2 separate regions of the Homo sapiens genome follow, and region 1 is reported to be linked to region 2. Evidence: microRNA targets listed by miRTarBase, many of them from high-throughput screens and not tested one by one. Region 2 holds a microRNA gene; the other region holds the end of a gene's coding sequence.
Evidence for each region. The annotated mature microRNA hsa-miR-218-5p reads UUGUGCUUGAUCUAACCAUGU and lies in region 2 at 3,263-3,283, opposite strand. An mRNA with a match to its seed (bases 2 to 7 or 8) in the 3' UTR can be bound and repressed. Matches are read on the target gene's strand: a 7mer-m8 pairs with bases 2 to 8, a 7mer-A1 pairs with bases 2 to 7 and ends in A, and an 8mer does both.

Region 1 (7,477 bases), not on the chromosome of region 2:
AGCCGGTCTTGGAGAGAAGTCCACTGAATACGCTCACTTGTTCGAAGTCTTTGGCATGGACCCTCATCTCACTCAGCCAATGGGAAGGCACGCTGGCAAGAGGCCCTATCACCGCCGCGACTATGGGGTAGCGTTCAAGGGCAGGCCGCACCTCACTCAGCACATGAGCATGTACGACGGGAGAAAAATGCATGAATGTCATCAGTGCCAAAAAGCCTTCACCACGAGCGCGTCCCTCACACGGCACAGGAGAATCCACACCGGGGAGAAGCCTTACGAGTGCAGCGACTGCGGGAAAGCCTTCAACGACCCTTCAGCCCTTAGGAGCCACGCAAGAACTCACCTCAAAGAGAAGCCCTTTGACTGCAGTCAGTGTGGAAATGCATTCCGGACCCTCTCGGCCCTGAAAATCCACATGCGAGTTCACACTGGCGAGAGGCCTTACAAGTGTGATCAGTGCGGGAAGGCTTACGGCCGGAGCTGCCACCTCATCGCACACAAGAGAACGCACACCGGAGAGAGGCCCTACGAGTGTCACGACTGTGGGAAAGCTTTCCAGCACCCCTCCCACCTCAAAGAGCACGTGAGGAATCACACGGGGGAGAAGCCCTACGCGTGCACGCAGTGCGGCAAAGCCTTCCGCTGGAAGTCCAACTTTAATTTGCACAAGAAGAACCACATGGTGGAGAAGACCTACGAATGTAAAGAATGCGGGAAATCCTTTGGCGATCTCGTGTCCCGGAGGAAACACATGAGGATTCACATCGTCAAGAAACCCGTGGAATGTCGGCAGTGCGGGAAGACCTTCCGAAACCAGTCCATCCTTAAGACTCACATGAACTCTCACACTGGAGAGAAACCATACGGGTGCGATCTCTGCGGGAAAGCTTTCAGCGCGAGTTCAAACCTCACCGCACACAGGAAGATACACACGCAAGAGAGACGCTACGAATGCGCCGCCTGCGGGAAAGTCTTCGGTGACTATTTATCCCGGCGGAGGCACATGAGCGTTCACCTTGTAAAGAAACGAGTTGAGTGTAGGCAGTGTGGCAAGGCCTTCAGGAACCAGTCAACGCTGAAGACGCACATGCGAAGCCACACGGGGGAGAAACCGTACGAATGCGATCACTGTGGGAAGGCCTTCAGCATAGGCTCCAACCTGAATGTGCACAGGCGGATCCACACCGGGGAGAAGCCCTACGAATGCCTTGTCTGCGGGAAAGCCTTCAGCGACCACTCATCCCTCAGGAGCCACGTGAAAACTCACCGGGGAGAGAAGCTCTTTGTGTCATCCGTGTGGAAAAGGCTCCAGTGAGCGCGCCTGCTTTAGAGACACAGGATGATTCAGACCGGAAACAGACCTCGTGGGTGTAAGAGGAAGCCTCTGTGAGCTCGCACCTTACTGGGTGCAAAAGAATCCACGGAACTTGGGAGAAGTCCAGTTCCTGTAAAAACTGGGAAGACGAGGCGTTCTCATCCCATAGGAGGTTTGTGAGAACTCACGCCGGGGGTGAAAATGTACGTCTGTAGCATGGAGAAGCCTTCAGGGTACATTCAGCTCTTAACAAACACAGGAGGACTTAATGGCAGCTTGGCATTTAATGTCAAAATCCAAGCCGTGGCATTTAATGTCAAAATGACTTCAGACCACTTCTAGCCTTCTGGGCCCATGAGTAATAATGAGCACACTAGGGAGCATCTCTGTAAACACAGTGGCTGGGGAAACCCTTCCTAGTCTCACTTGATTCCTCATGACGGAAATCACACTAAAGAGAGAAATCAGTGAAGTAAGGAACGTGGAAGGTCATGAATGGGCCGCAAACCACGGCCAGCTGCTTGTCTTTGTATGGCTTGCCAGCTAACAATAGTGGTTCCATCTTTAAGGAAGAAGAATGTTTGATGGAGAAAATTTGTGGCCAATGAAGTCTGAAATACTTCCTGTCATCTGCCCCTTTCCAGAAAAACTTGGCCGACCCTTGGTCTACAGCACGGGTTCTCAGTCGGGCGACGATTTGGCTGTCTAGGCGTCATTTGGCAATGTCTAGAGACATTTTTGGTAGTTAGAATGGGGGGAAGATACTCCTGACTTGTAATAAGAAGACATCAGAGATGCTGCTAAGTCGGCTCCAGCACACAGGAGCCCCCCACAACGAAGAGTTAGTGCCCCCAAACGTCACTGTTGCTGAGGTTGAAAATAATCATGCAGTCATTCCTCAATTACTGCCTGCAGCAATTCCTCCATTTTTATGAATCTTGTGAGCACTTACGCTAGGAGAAATTTCTTTTACAAAACTTTTAAAATACAATTAGTGCTGATAATTCCTATGTGGAAATGATTCCAGCCATGGTCCCCTCACTTGAGCATGTGAATATTCTCACGGAGAGAAGCCCCAGCGAGATTTTCCGGTGAATACGGGATTGCACTTACTCTTTCATCACGGAAACAGACCCCCCGAGAGAAGCCCCAACGAGATTTTCCGGTGAATACGGGACTGCACGTACTCTCTCATCATGAAAACAGAGCCCCGTTCATAAATTTTTCATCTTTATTTTTAAGGTTATACTCCTCTAAATAACCCTTAAGCCTCATCAAGAAAGGTTTGTTTATAGTATTTTTACTATAGCTTCATCCTTGATAACGTCCTAATTTCCTTCTGGACAACCTCCTTGACCAATGGCATATTGAGATCTATGTGACATGAGGATATTTCTCAGTACCACTTTGTTACTGGTACCTGATGCACACGGATTGCGACCAGAGCATGATGCCTCCATCAAGTGGTAATATGTTTGCAGCCTGCTGTCCAGCCAAGAGTGACAGATACTTCTAGTGACTTCCCCGGTATCCACTCTCATCTTCTTCCAATATCAAGAGAATCCAGGTTCTGTCAGATTAGTAAGGTGTGCTAATCTAAATTTTAAAAAATCTCTTACAGGTTTTCTTGCAGCTGGTACCATCCATGTCTCACAGCCCTGGCCACTGACAGATCAGCAGATGTCACCACATGGGCTTCTGAGAAAGCTCTTGAATGGGGATCGTTCTTAAACATGAATTCCTCCCTGTATGTTTTGTTCTTTGCTTTACTTTTCACCTTGCAAAGAGATCCAGTACCTAGTATTGGAAGATCCACCTTAACGACCGTGCATATGAAAACCACAGTCTAAGGAAGTGACTGCAGAAAGCTCACAGCGACCCTGGCCTCCCCTGTGGCCTCTTTGAGTGTCTGCAGCAGCCCTGGACTTCCAGACTTCTATCACATGAGAAAAAATAAAACTGATTATTGGTTTAAGCTGCTATGGATATTTCATTGTTTTTCTTTTAAATTTATTTATTTTAAGATGGGGGTCTCCCTATGTTGCCTAGGCTAGATTCGAACTCCTGGGCTCAAACAATCTTCCTGCCTCAGTCTCCCAAGTAGCTGAGAATACAGGCATGTGCCACCACACCCAGCTTGTTTTTCTATTTCATTTGTTTATTGGTGGGAGGGGGTTTCTACACCCAGCTGGATGCTGCCTGGAGCCCATACACCTGGTCATTGGTCAGTTGTGTGGTTTTTTTTTGTTTTTTTTTTTTTGTTTGTTTGTTTTTTGAGACAGAGTCTTGCTCTGTCACCCAGGCTGGAGTGCAATGGCGCGATCTCGGCTCACTGCAAGCTCTGCCTCCCAAGTTCATGCCATTCTCCTGCCTCAGCCTCCTGAGTAGCTGGGACTACAGGTGCCCGCCACCACACCCGGCTAATATTTTTTTGTATTTTTAGTAGAGATGGGGTTTCACCGTGTGAGACAGGATGGTCTTGATGGCCTGACCTCATGATCCGCCCACCTTGGCCTCCCAAAGTGCTGGGATTACAGGCGTGAGCCACCGCGCCCGGCCATGTTCAGATGACTGATTAGCCTATCAAAGGCATTCTTCCGTTTCTTTATGGTGGCTTTGATTTCTGATCTTTCCTTCTGATTCTTTGAGTCTCTATTTTTCTGCTGATGATGTAGGGCAGATGAGCCCCCAAACTGGGGGTTAGCCCAGGAGGGTTCTTGGCTTTGCTCAGGAAAGAATTCAAGAGGCAGCCAGCAGTAAAAGAAATTGGGTTTATTGAAGCAGCAGGGCACAGCAGAGTGGCTGCCCCTTGTGGAGCAGGGCTGACTCATAGGCAGTATACCCAGGGTAGCAGCATATAGGCTGTTGGCTAGCAGTATTTATACCCAGTTTTAATTACATGCAAATTAAGGGGTGGGCTATTCAGACAGCACTCCTCATTCACCTTCCACCATGATTGTGAGGCCTCCCCAGCCATGTGGAACTATGAGTCCATTAAACCTCTTTATGAATTAGGCAGTCTCAGGTATGTCTTTATTAGCAGTGTGAGACACAGTTGCTCCGGCCTATAAATGACACATAGTTTTAAGTCTGTTTCCTGCAGTTCTCCTATGATTGGCCAGGGTTTTGATTCTGTTTTGTTTTTTTGCATTTTCAAATTAAGGGTAGATGATTCTGAGGGTCTTGCTCCAGCTCTGTCTCAGGCCCCCCCACCAGCTATCCCTCTTTCTTGCAGTTTACCTAACAGAGCCTTGGGGTGGGCATGTGTGGGACCGTGGTGCTAAGATTTAATGCTTTTTCTCATTTTACTCATAGTTATGTTGCAATTTTGGCATTCTCTATGTCTTAAAGGCAGTGTTGAAGGTATAGTTTTGTGTAGAAGATTCATAGGTGTGGAGTTACTTCACAGCATTTGAAAGGGGATTTGGGGAGGTTGCTTACCACTCACTGGCCATTGTTTTTAGTTACCTGGAAGTCTCCTCACCTTAGTTTTTGGAGATACTTTGGCTGAATATGTTATTTTATTTTATTTTAATTTATTTTTTGAGACAGAGTGTCGCCCAGGCTGGAGTGCAGTGGCATGATCTCAGCTCACTACAACCTCCACCTCCCAGGTTCAAACGATCTTGTGCCTTAGCCACCTGAGTAGCTGGGATTATAGGTTTGCACCACCATGCCTGGCAAATTTTTGTATTTTTAGTAAAGTTGAGGTTCCATCACGTTAGCCAGGCTGGTCTTGAACTCCTGACCTCAGGTGATCTGCCTGCCTCAGCCTCCCAAGGTGCTGGGATTACAGGTGTGAGCCACCGCGCCTGGTCTGGATATGCTTTAAAGGGGTCATTTCTTTGTCTTCTGGCCTCCATTGTTGCTGACTAAAAGTTAGCGTTATTCTTAACATTATTCCCCTGTAAGTAATGTAAGTAATGTGTTGCTTGTCACTGGCTCCTCTTCAGATAATTATCTTGGGTTTTCAACAGTTTGACTCTGTGTCTTGGTGCAGTTTCCTGTGCATTTACTCTGCTTGGGGATCCTTCAGATTCTTAGATACGTGAGTCACTGTCTTTCACAAGGAAGTATTTGGCCATTATTTCTTCATAATTTTTTAATTGTGGTAAAATAAACATAACATGAAATTCACTGGGTTTTTTTGTTTGTTTGTTTTTGTTTTTTGAGGCAGAGTCTCGTTCTGTTGCCCAAGCTGGAGTCCAGTGGTGCAATCTTGGCTCACTGCAACCTCCACATCCTGGGTTCAAGCAATTCTCCTGCCTCAGCCTCCTGAGTAGCTGGGACTATAGGTGCGCACCACCATGCCCAGCTAATATTTGTATTTTTAGTAGAAATGGAGTTTCACCATGTTGGCCAGGATGGTCTTGATCTCTTGACCTCATGATCCACCTGCCTCGGCCTCCCAAAGTGCTAGGATTACATGTGTGAGCCACCGCGCACAGCCCCATTTTAATCATTTTTTAGGTGTACTGTTCGGTGGCATTAAGTACATTGACAATATTGGCTACCACCACTATCCATTTTCAGATCTTTCTCTTCATTCCAAAAAATTATGTACCCATTAAGCAATCACTCCTCAACACTTCTATCTTCAGCCCCTGGTAACTTGTAGGTAGTGTCCATGAATTTTGTCAGAAGTAGAATAATAAAATACGTTGTTTTGTGTGCGTCTGCCTTATTTCATTAAAAGTAATGTTTTCAAGGCTTATCCATGTTGTAGCATGTATCAGAATTTCATTCCCTTTTATGGCTTAATAAATTCTGTTGCATGTATGTGTCACGTTTTATTCATTCATCTATTGATGAACATTTGGGCTGTTTCTACCTCTTGGCTATTGTGAATCATACTGATATTGATGATTTTTTTTTCTTTTTTCTTGAGATGCAGTCTTGCTCTGTTGCCCAGGCTGGAGTGCAGTGGCGCGATCTGGGCTCACTGCAACCTCTGCCTCCTGGATTCAAGCAATTATCCTGCCTCAGCCTCCAAAGTAGCTGGGTACTCGCCGAGTAGCCTGCCACCATGCCCGGCTAATTTTTGTATTTTTAGTAGAAACGGAGTTTTACCATGTTGGTCAGGCTGGTCTTGAACTCCTGACCTCAGGTGATATGCCCGCCTCAGCCTCCCAAAGTGTTGGGATTACAGGTGTGAGCCACTGCGCCCAGCCTGAAGACAGCATTCTTAGCATGAAGGATGCAAAGTTGAGGCAAAGGAGATCTATCCAAACCAACCTCATTACACTACGGCTTCTGAGCCACTTCTCTACCTGATTAACCACCCTAGCCCACACCCTTGGTTTTATCCCATTAGCGCAGTTTACTTGTCTGTCCAATTCAGTTTATAAGTGTTTGGCTCTTAACTGCTTTTCTGGCTTGTTTCCTTATGAGGAACCCCATGCCACATAAAACTTTCATTAAACAAATACATGTGTATGCTTTAATCTTGTTAACCTAATCGTATGTCGGTGTAATTATCAGGCCCAGCAAGGATCCTAAGATGATGAAGGTGAAATCTTGTTGCCCCTACAATATGGACATTGGATGCAAGTGTCTGTGTGAGTTCCTGCTTTCAATTCTCAGGAATTTTCCGAAGTTGTTTTCTTCCTCATTTTCTCCTTTTGGGACTCCAGCTGCGCCACAGGACTCTGAAGTTCCTGTTTCATTTTTCTAATGTGTTTGTTTTCCAGTTTGTATGACTTCTACTGATATATCTTAAAGTTCACTAACTCTTCTGTCCTCTTCATCTGTGGAATCCATTTAGTGACTCCTTAAAATCCAGATGTCTGAGGTCCTTAGGAAAACAGGTGCTTCTCCCTGTTGTAGCTTGAATTTGCTCTGAATGTGGTGGTCCCCTAAGCCAATAACACAATGCCTCCTGGCCTGCCCTGGCCACCCAGGGAGGAATGAAGGGAGAGGTAGGTGTAGTGGTAATAAGCCTTGCTGTGCACAGCTTTGTGTAATAACTGAAAAGGGTGATGTGTTTTCCTGCTCCCATCCCCAAGCCTGATTTCTTCAAGATGCAGTAACTGGGACGGGTGCAGTGGCTCATGTCTGTAATCCCAGCACTTTGGGAGGCCAAGGAGGGAGGATCACGAGGCCAAGAGTTCGAGATCAGCCTGACCAACATAGTGAAACCTCATTTCTACTAAAAATACAAAA
Region 2 (8,132 bases):
CTTTAAAAGTCATACAATTCAGTTGTGGAACCATCTTTGCTATCTAATTCCAGAACATTTTCATTACCCCCAAAAGAAACCCCATACTTACTACCAGTCACTCCTGGTGGCTGTTCCCCCACAGTCCTTGGCAACCACTAGGTTACTTTTTGCTTTTACTAATTTTCCTAGTCTGGGCATTTTGCATAAACGGAATCATGTAAGATGTAGCCTTTTCTGTCTGGCTTCTTTTGCTTTGTGTAATGTCTTATTCCTGTTGTAGCATATGGCAGTGCTTCATTATTTTTTAAGACTGAATGATATTTCATTACACAGGCATGACACATTTGTTTATCCATTTATCAGTTAGGAGGCATTTGTGTTGCTTCCATTCTTTGATGGCTATAAATAATGCTGCTATGAACATGGTGTGCACGTTTCTGCCTGGATATATGTTGTCGTTTTTTGGACATATACATAGGAGGGGCATTGCTGGATCACATGGTAAATCGTGATTAACTCTTTGAGAAATAGCAAAAAAGATTTCCATAGAAGCTTTACATTCAGACCAGCAATGTATGAGGGTTTCAATTTCTTCCACTATGTTACTCTCCCTTTTTGTTTTTGTTTTTTTTTTTTAGCCATTCCAGTGGGTCTAAAATGGTATCTCATTGTGGTTTTGATTGGAATGTCCCTAATAACTAATGATATTGAGCAGTTTTTCATGTGTTTATTGGACATTTGTATATGTTCTTTGGAGAAAGGTCAATATGAATAATTTAACCATTCATTAGCTGAGTAAAATACCTTTTAATCTAAATTATAAGAGTTCTGTATATATTCTGAATTATGTGCCTTATTAGATACATGACTTGCAAATATTTTATTCTCAGTACTGATTTTATTATATAATTAAAAAAATTATAAATCTCTTACATTACACACATTTGCTGAAGTCTAAATTGGAGGCTAGTTTCCACTATAATTCCTCCATGACAAACAAACTTATTTAAAGTGCTAGGCCAGGGGCAGTGTCTCATGCCTGTAACCCTGGCACTTTGAGAGGCAGAGGCAGGAGGATTGCTTGAGCTCAGGAGTTCAAGACCAGCCTGGACAACAGGGCAAAATCCCATCTCTACAAAAAGTACAAAATTAGCTGGGTGTGGTGGTGCATGCCTGAGGTCCCAGCTTCTTGGGGAGATGGGGGTGGGGGACTGAGGTGGGAGGATCCCTTGCGCCCAGGAGGCCAAGGCTACAGGGAGCTGTGATTGTGCCACTGCACTCCTGCCTGGGTGAGATAGTGAGACTCTGTCTCAAAAAAAAAAAAAGTACTATTGTGCTGGAAGGTATCACTTGTTTGTAGTATTATAGGTAATAAGCATAAATCCCTATATGTCTATAAAAAATAAAGTTCAGGGCCTTGGTTGCATGGACTCCATGCATTTCTAAAATTCCTGGAGCTGTGAAATAGCTTCATCAACTAATAGGAGTAAAAAAAAAAAAATCACTATAACTACAAGATAGTGGGTTTCTGTCAACTCTTTGAAAGGCATTACTTTATTTTTAGTTATTCAAATTGCTAAAAATTAATTAAGTACAGGCATGAGTATAGGCACAGTGAGAGATAAACAATAACACACAATCCCTGTCATCAAGGAGCTATAATCTAGTTAAAGATGGAAGGATTATATACAAACAAACAGACAACGAACTTTGCAAAGCAGTAAATGACAAATACCAGATGGTGCTATATATAAACATGGCTAAGATGTTTAGAGAATGATGAGGTTTTGCTAGTTTTTTCCCTGAATTGTTAGAACACTAACATTAAAGGTCCTCTTCTTATAAATAAAGTCAGTAAAGGCAAACCATGCATGGGCATAGAATCTGTAAGTGCTCCAACAAACACCTTAGCACTTAGTATGTGCAAGGTCCTATGTTAAGGCTGTTAAGTGTAAATACCATCATATTCTGCCTTTTCAGCTTTTCTTGCATTGTTCAGAAAAAGCTATCCTTTCTACTTTAATACTTGATAACCACTGAATCCTTCTGCCCGTAAGTCAATGAAGTAGTAAATTAGGTAAGACAGACTCCTTGAATCTATTGATAGTTTACAGAGATTGAAAATGGAGGCTCTCAAACTACTTTATTTAGTTGCTATAAGAATTAAATACGTTAAAAACTAAGTACTTAGAAAACAAATTGGGAATAAATAATACCCAATAAATAAGCATCAAATAAATACCATTGTTATTAGTATGAAGTGCTTACTGAATTTTGAGAGATAAATTAGTTTCTGTACTTAATCGTATGGTTGGCTAGAAAGATGAATGAAGGTAGCCTCTAATATATTCTTGTACAAAATAGAGTTATGCCAATGTAATGCATATTAATTAAAATTAATGCAATTATTAATAATAAAAATGGCAAGACAAACATTCTTATGCTTTAATGCTTTCATTCCCTCCATCCCAACCAGAATTTTGTTGGGGGATGAACTTACAACTCTGCAGTGTACTGGGGAATGTGCTCCGGGATTTTGTTGAGCTTTTGATTAGAGCAATCTACTGTGGTTCCTTCACAGCGACACTTTTCAGGGCAAGCCAGATCCGCAAAGCAGTCTCCACTTAATTTTGATCGATAATCTTCTGTACCTATTGAGAATTCAAACCAAAAAAAAGATACTGAGTCTAAAGGTTAGAAAATTTATTAGTTTGTAGGAAGAAAAAAGTAAGATAACTATAGATTATGTAGCAGGGAGACAACTTGGGGTATTTTGGTCAATGGATGTCAGGAGAAAGGTTAAAAGAAAGGCTTGGAATTTTCTGGAAAAAAGAGTGACCAGATTCACATGACAGGAAAACATTAATAAAGTTGAGCTTTTCACAGCTGTACTTTCTGCTGATCCAATTCTGAGTCATTCTAGCCTACTTCACAGCTAGTCACACAATGGATATTAATTATTAAAAAGTTTATTTTTTTTCTCGGAGTCAAGAATTGAAAATATATCCAGTAATAAACATGATCCTATATCTCATTGTAAATTAGGGCTTTCAAGGCAAATAGATATACTCAGGCTTTTAAATTTTCTATGGACTTTTTACTATTCTCTCCCTCTCACATAATCTCGGAGATGCCTAAAAAGCCCTCTTTTTTCATTTTGATTTTGTAGAAAGAGACAGGAAAATCCTGATTTAAGCCTCAGCAGCTTGTCATGCTGTAGAAAGCTGCGTGACGTTCCATGGTGCTTGACGGAACCATGTTTTACTCATACCTCGCAACCACATGGTTAGATCAAGCACAACAGAAAATCTCGCTACATTATCACTACACCAACCACTAGGCCAAAGGTAAGACCAAGAGGAAAATGGAGGGAAGGAGGAGAAAAGCTACAGACGTTCTGGAAACGTAATACTGTTTACATGACATGCATTCTTCCCGCAGAATGTTTATGACCACAGTAAGAGTATTACTACCGATGATTTCCTGGAAACACAAAGAAGGGGCTATATGGAAAAGGTGCCTCCACCATTCCTCAGAACTGCAGAATGGAAACAACAGCTTTCGGGAACAACATCCAGGAAGAAGTTGAAGGTGAGCTACAAGGACAACAGAGAAGCTCAAAAGATCTGTGGTTTCTTCTTGAAAAAAAGGTGCCAAAGACCAAGACTAGAAGAAGGTACATCAGGATTGAAAAGGGAGGGTATTATGTTTCAGATCAGACACTTTTACTTACAGCCAAAATGGTGAATTCCTGCAAAAGTAAAGATCACCAAGAAGGAAAGAAAGAGTAATCCCAATTAAGATTAATATACATATTTATAAAACTAAGCTCTCTTCCTTCTTTCTTTATTATGGGAATTATTGAAAAAATAGCATGATGTGATGGGAATTGTCATGCTTTGTAAAATTTTATAAATAATATTTTGAAGCACGGTGGTCTCACAAGAAAACCAATGTAATAAAAGATGCATAGTGCAAATTAAGTTCTTGATTCCTTTAAAAGATGAACTCTCAAGGCCGGGTGTGGTGGCTCACGCCTGTAATACTAGCACTTCGGGAGGCCAAGGCGGGCGGATCACAAGGTCAGGAAGTCAAGACCATTTCACCTGACGGGTGAAAACCCATCTCCAGTAAAAATACAAAAAATTAGCTGGGCATGGTTGCGGGCGCCTGTAGTCCCAGCTACTCGGTGAGGCTGAGGCAGGAGAATGGCATGAACTCGGGAGGCGGAACTTGCAGTGAGCCGAGATCATGCCACTGCACTCCAGCCTGGGAGACAGCGAGACTCCATCTCCAAAAAAAAAAAGATGAACTCTCTGCAAGACAGATTTTCTTTTATCACTGTAATATGTAGAGTGCCATATAAAATGGTAGTAGCGAGGTACACACGTAAAAGTGAATGAAAAACTAATCATGGAGATCCTCAAGGACAATCATTACAACATTTGGATTAATCCTTATGTTGTGATGTACACTTTTTAATGAACTTTTCAACTTATAAATAATGTGTCTTAGTGGAAATGGAATCAGAATCTCATAAGAAGTTTGCGATGGTAAATATAATCGTTTCATTACATTTGGCAGTTAATGCCATGATATTTACTGAGGATCTGGTGTCTTATGATTTATGCTTCACTCCAAAATGAAATAAGAGTGCACAAAGTCTAAGTGACAGGTACACTGGATATCTTGCAATTCAAATAATCTGCATTCAACGGAACAGTAATAATGCTTATTTTATGGTGGCTTGTTAGGTGGACTCAAATTTTAATTAAAATTTTTGGAAAAAAGGGGAGGAAGCCCAAATGATCCTTTTGAGTCCTGGCTTCTACAATTATCATGTTTAAAGAATGTAAATTAAATTATCATAAATTGAAACTTAAGACATGATATTTGATATAAAAGATAATTTCCAAATCCTATTTTGGCTGCTGTCAGTAACAGGGAAAAACTATATCAGAATATATGAAAACAACCTGACTTTTGTTCTTTATTTAGTGAATTGGAAATATTAAACTTACCAATTATTAATTAAGTATATTTAAATGAAATAGTTTGAATAATTTGATACCAATTACATTACTGCCATAATTTTAGGATTTAAATCATATTAATGTTTTATTCTATAGGTAGTCTGGTGTTTAGAATATGGCTTTTTCTGGTTAAATAATAGCTATCAGATTACTTTCCACTTAATTGGGTAAAGTAATTAATATTAAACATTGTCAATGAAGGCCAATCAACTGTTCTTTTCAACATGTTACTTGTTATGCAGCCAGTATAATAATATACAATGCTATTGATCATTCAAGCTCAAAATAAGTCATATCACCAAATCTACTAAATCCATAAAATTATACAAATTGTAATTCAATAATGGCAAGCTAACAAATATCTCCTTAAAATAGAGACTAAACCCAGAGTTCTTCTTAAGAAAATATGGAAAGTTAGACTAACTCTGTACACTAACGCTGTAGAAATATCTTTTAATCTATAGCTCTTAAAATTTTTTATAGTCTAGAATATACCCAAGAGACGGTGAATGTGGCCAATCGATACTTAACATAATGGTTTAAAACAAACAAGTCAAGAGGCATTTTACACAATTGGCAGGCAAGGAAAAATAAGTAAAGAAACGTATTTTAAAGAGCTAGTTCTAGAATCATCAGTCTTGATAGTGTTACGATTGAAGTGGTAAAACATTGCGATTACTTTTCTTAGAAACATTTTATCCATCTGCCTAAATTATTCAAGGCATTTTGTGCCCATGAACTTCTGATGCTTTCACATCACACATAAATATTCTTTTTTATGGAGTTATATTGTAATTCTGGATATAGAAGAATGTAAAGTCATAAACAAATAAGAAACAACTGCATATAATTCAGCAGGGAGTTGCTGTTTTTCTATAAACAGTGAAGCAAAAGTAAAGCAATAAGTACAGTTTTTAAATATAAGAATCTATAAAAAAGTAATTTTCATGATTGAAAATGAAATTCTGTGTGTAACTGATTTCATGTAGAACTAGCTCTTTGACATCAGAAAGATCTCTGTCTTTAAAACCAGCTCAATTAGCTATATTTTAAAAACAGGTTGGAAGATCAGATATACAATGTAAGGAGAGAAAATGATTTAAGTAGAAAGCCATAGCTTCAAACATTTTAGCTACTGTGAGAAATTTTAGATAATGCGCCAAAGTAAAAGAAAGAGAAGAAAAGGTGGAGTTTAATAATATATGTTTAACATCAGAAGCTGCATGCAAAGGTCAGGATTTCAGGAAACAGCTACAAGTGATATATGCATAAGTCAATCTATCTATAGAGTATCCACTGTACTTTCAGAAGCATGCATATCAGTTTTAGAAGCTATATTTTATAAGGTGAGGAAAGGGTGTCTGTAGTTAGTCCTACTACCGAGCAAAACCTACCTGGAATGAAATACTGTTCTTTAGCTAAATAAAAAAAGAGACAAAAAATAGAAGATGCACCTGAATGTCAGCAAGCAGAGATATGAGTTATATTAGATTAAGAATGGACTAAAGTTACTGCAATTAAGTGAAAAATGTATATTCACAGCTGTGACTGAAGTACAATAATGTACAGTGAGTAGTAAATGCATCTATAATTATGGACAATAACCAGCTTGGTTCTTATATTAGCTTTTTAGTATGAAATTAACTGCCGAATGTGAAATACGCCTGGAATAGTTAGGTAGCATAGTACCAAAAAGACATAAAATATTCTATCATAAAAAAGGAAAATATTAGATCAAAGCAAACAGTAAATTTGAATGATGGCAGCCTTTCATTTAATATCAATACAATGCATTCATATTTAGCTTTTTACAAATAAATGCAATATTCCCACAATATTTTTAAAAATAGCTTTTGGAAAAAACGCATCCTCACGGTTGTATGCAAAATAAGAGAATGCAAACTGAGAAAGTGCATTCAGAGTAAGAAGCAAGGGATCTGGAGTCCCTCCTGGCGCCCCTGTACTTCTGAGCCCAAACAAATCATGTAACCAAGTCTCAATTCACTTTCTGAAGAAATGAAAACACAGTTAATTACTTGAGGCTGGTCAATTCAACAAACATGAGACTTAACATACTTTAAAGGTATTCTGAGTTAGCTATAAGGCTCTGGTTAAGTTTGAATTTTGGAAAGGTACTATGAAGTATCTAGGCATCTTTTTAACTTGGTCAATTGCCTATTTCTTCTGCTGTATATGGTGTTAAAATGTTACATATAGAAGTATTATTTGAATTGGGTCTACAGTCCTCTTTATTTTATTATTCATGGGCAGAAGAAAAAGAAATATGATTCTACAGTGTTCACTAATCAGCCGAAGGCCAGCTGCTTTTGTTAGGTCTCATGTAACCATTGTTGTTGGTCACAGGGGAAATAACACGTGAAGAAATTACCTGAACAACGGAATTTCTTGCTTTTGATCTGTCCAATTCTTTTGTTTGCCAGGCGGCGGGGGCTGGTGCAACGGGCACCACTGGTCTCAATCGGGTTGGTATGGAGATAATCCGCTAGCCACTTGAGATGGCAGTCACAAATAAAGGGGTTCTGGGCCAAATGCCTTTGGAAACACATACAGAACAGTTTTATAGATGACTTGCAATGGACTCAGCTCTTACATTCAGAGAGGAAACAATGTCATCAAAAGTGATCCAAATCACTTATACATACATAGTTTGAATGGCCCGAAGAGGTGAAAAGGTCCCCTTGGCGATGGTCTGAAGCTTGTTGTCATATAGGGAGAGAAGGTTCAAGTTGTGGAGATCCTGAAAAGCATCTACCCGAAGGCAGTTTATCTTGTTGGCATTCAATAATCTGTTTGATTAAATAGTTGTAGAATTAAAGTGTAGCATCTTATTAACTCACCTGCAAGATTTTGTGCTTTTTAAGGAAACCCAGTCAAGAAATATATTTCTTTTCACCTCAACACTAACATTTTAACTTTAATAATTTAGGAATTAGAGGCTAGAGATGTGGGGTTTTACCACATAACAAAAGTCATGTGATCAAATGAACCTAAATCTAGTGGTATTTATACATGTATTCAATACACATTATTAACCATTTCCTCTGGAAGATACAAAGGTGGGATAGTACACAAAGGTGGGTGAGACCCAGCCTCCAC

Region 1: miRTarBase lists ZNF317 as a target of hsa-miR-218-5p. The part of its 3' UTR that is shown has no 7-base or 8-base seed match.

Annotation. Positions count from the first base shown.
Region 1 is chr19:9,160,119-9,167,595 of GRCh38, forward strand. ZNF317 (zinc finger protein 317) reads left to right here. Exons shown (of 7, transcript NM_020933.5): 7 at 1-3,295. The coding sequence ends at 1,315. Among named protein-coding and RNA genes, the nearest start is that of OR7D2, 15 kb to the right of the region's middle. RefSeq lists an enhancer at 1-218.
Region 2 is chr4:20,523,450-20,531,581 of GRCh38, reverse strand. MIR218-1 (microRNA 218-1) reads right to left here and starts at 3,307; the gene lies at 3,198-3,307. SLIT2 (slit guidance ligand 2) reads right to left here. Exons shown (of 37, transcript NM_004787.4): 13 at 7,679-7,822; 14 at 7,405-7,568; 15 at 6,410-6,433; 16 at 2,483-2,633. RefSeq lists a silencer at 7,405-7,592.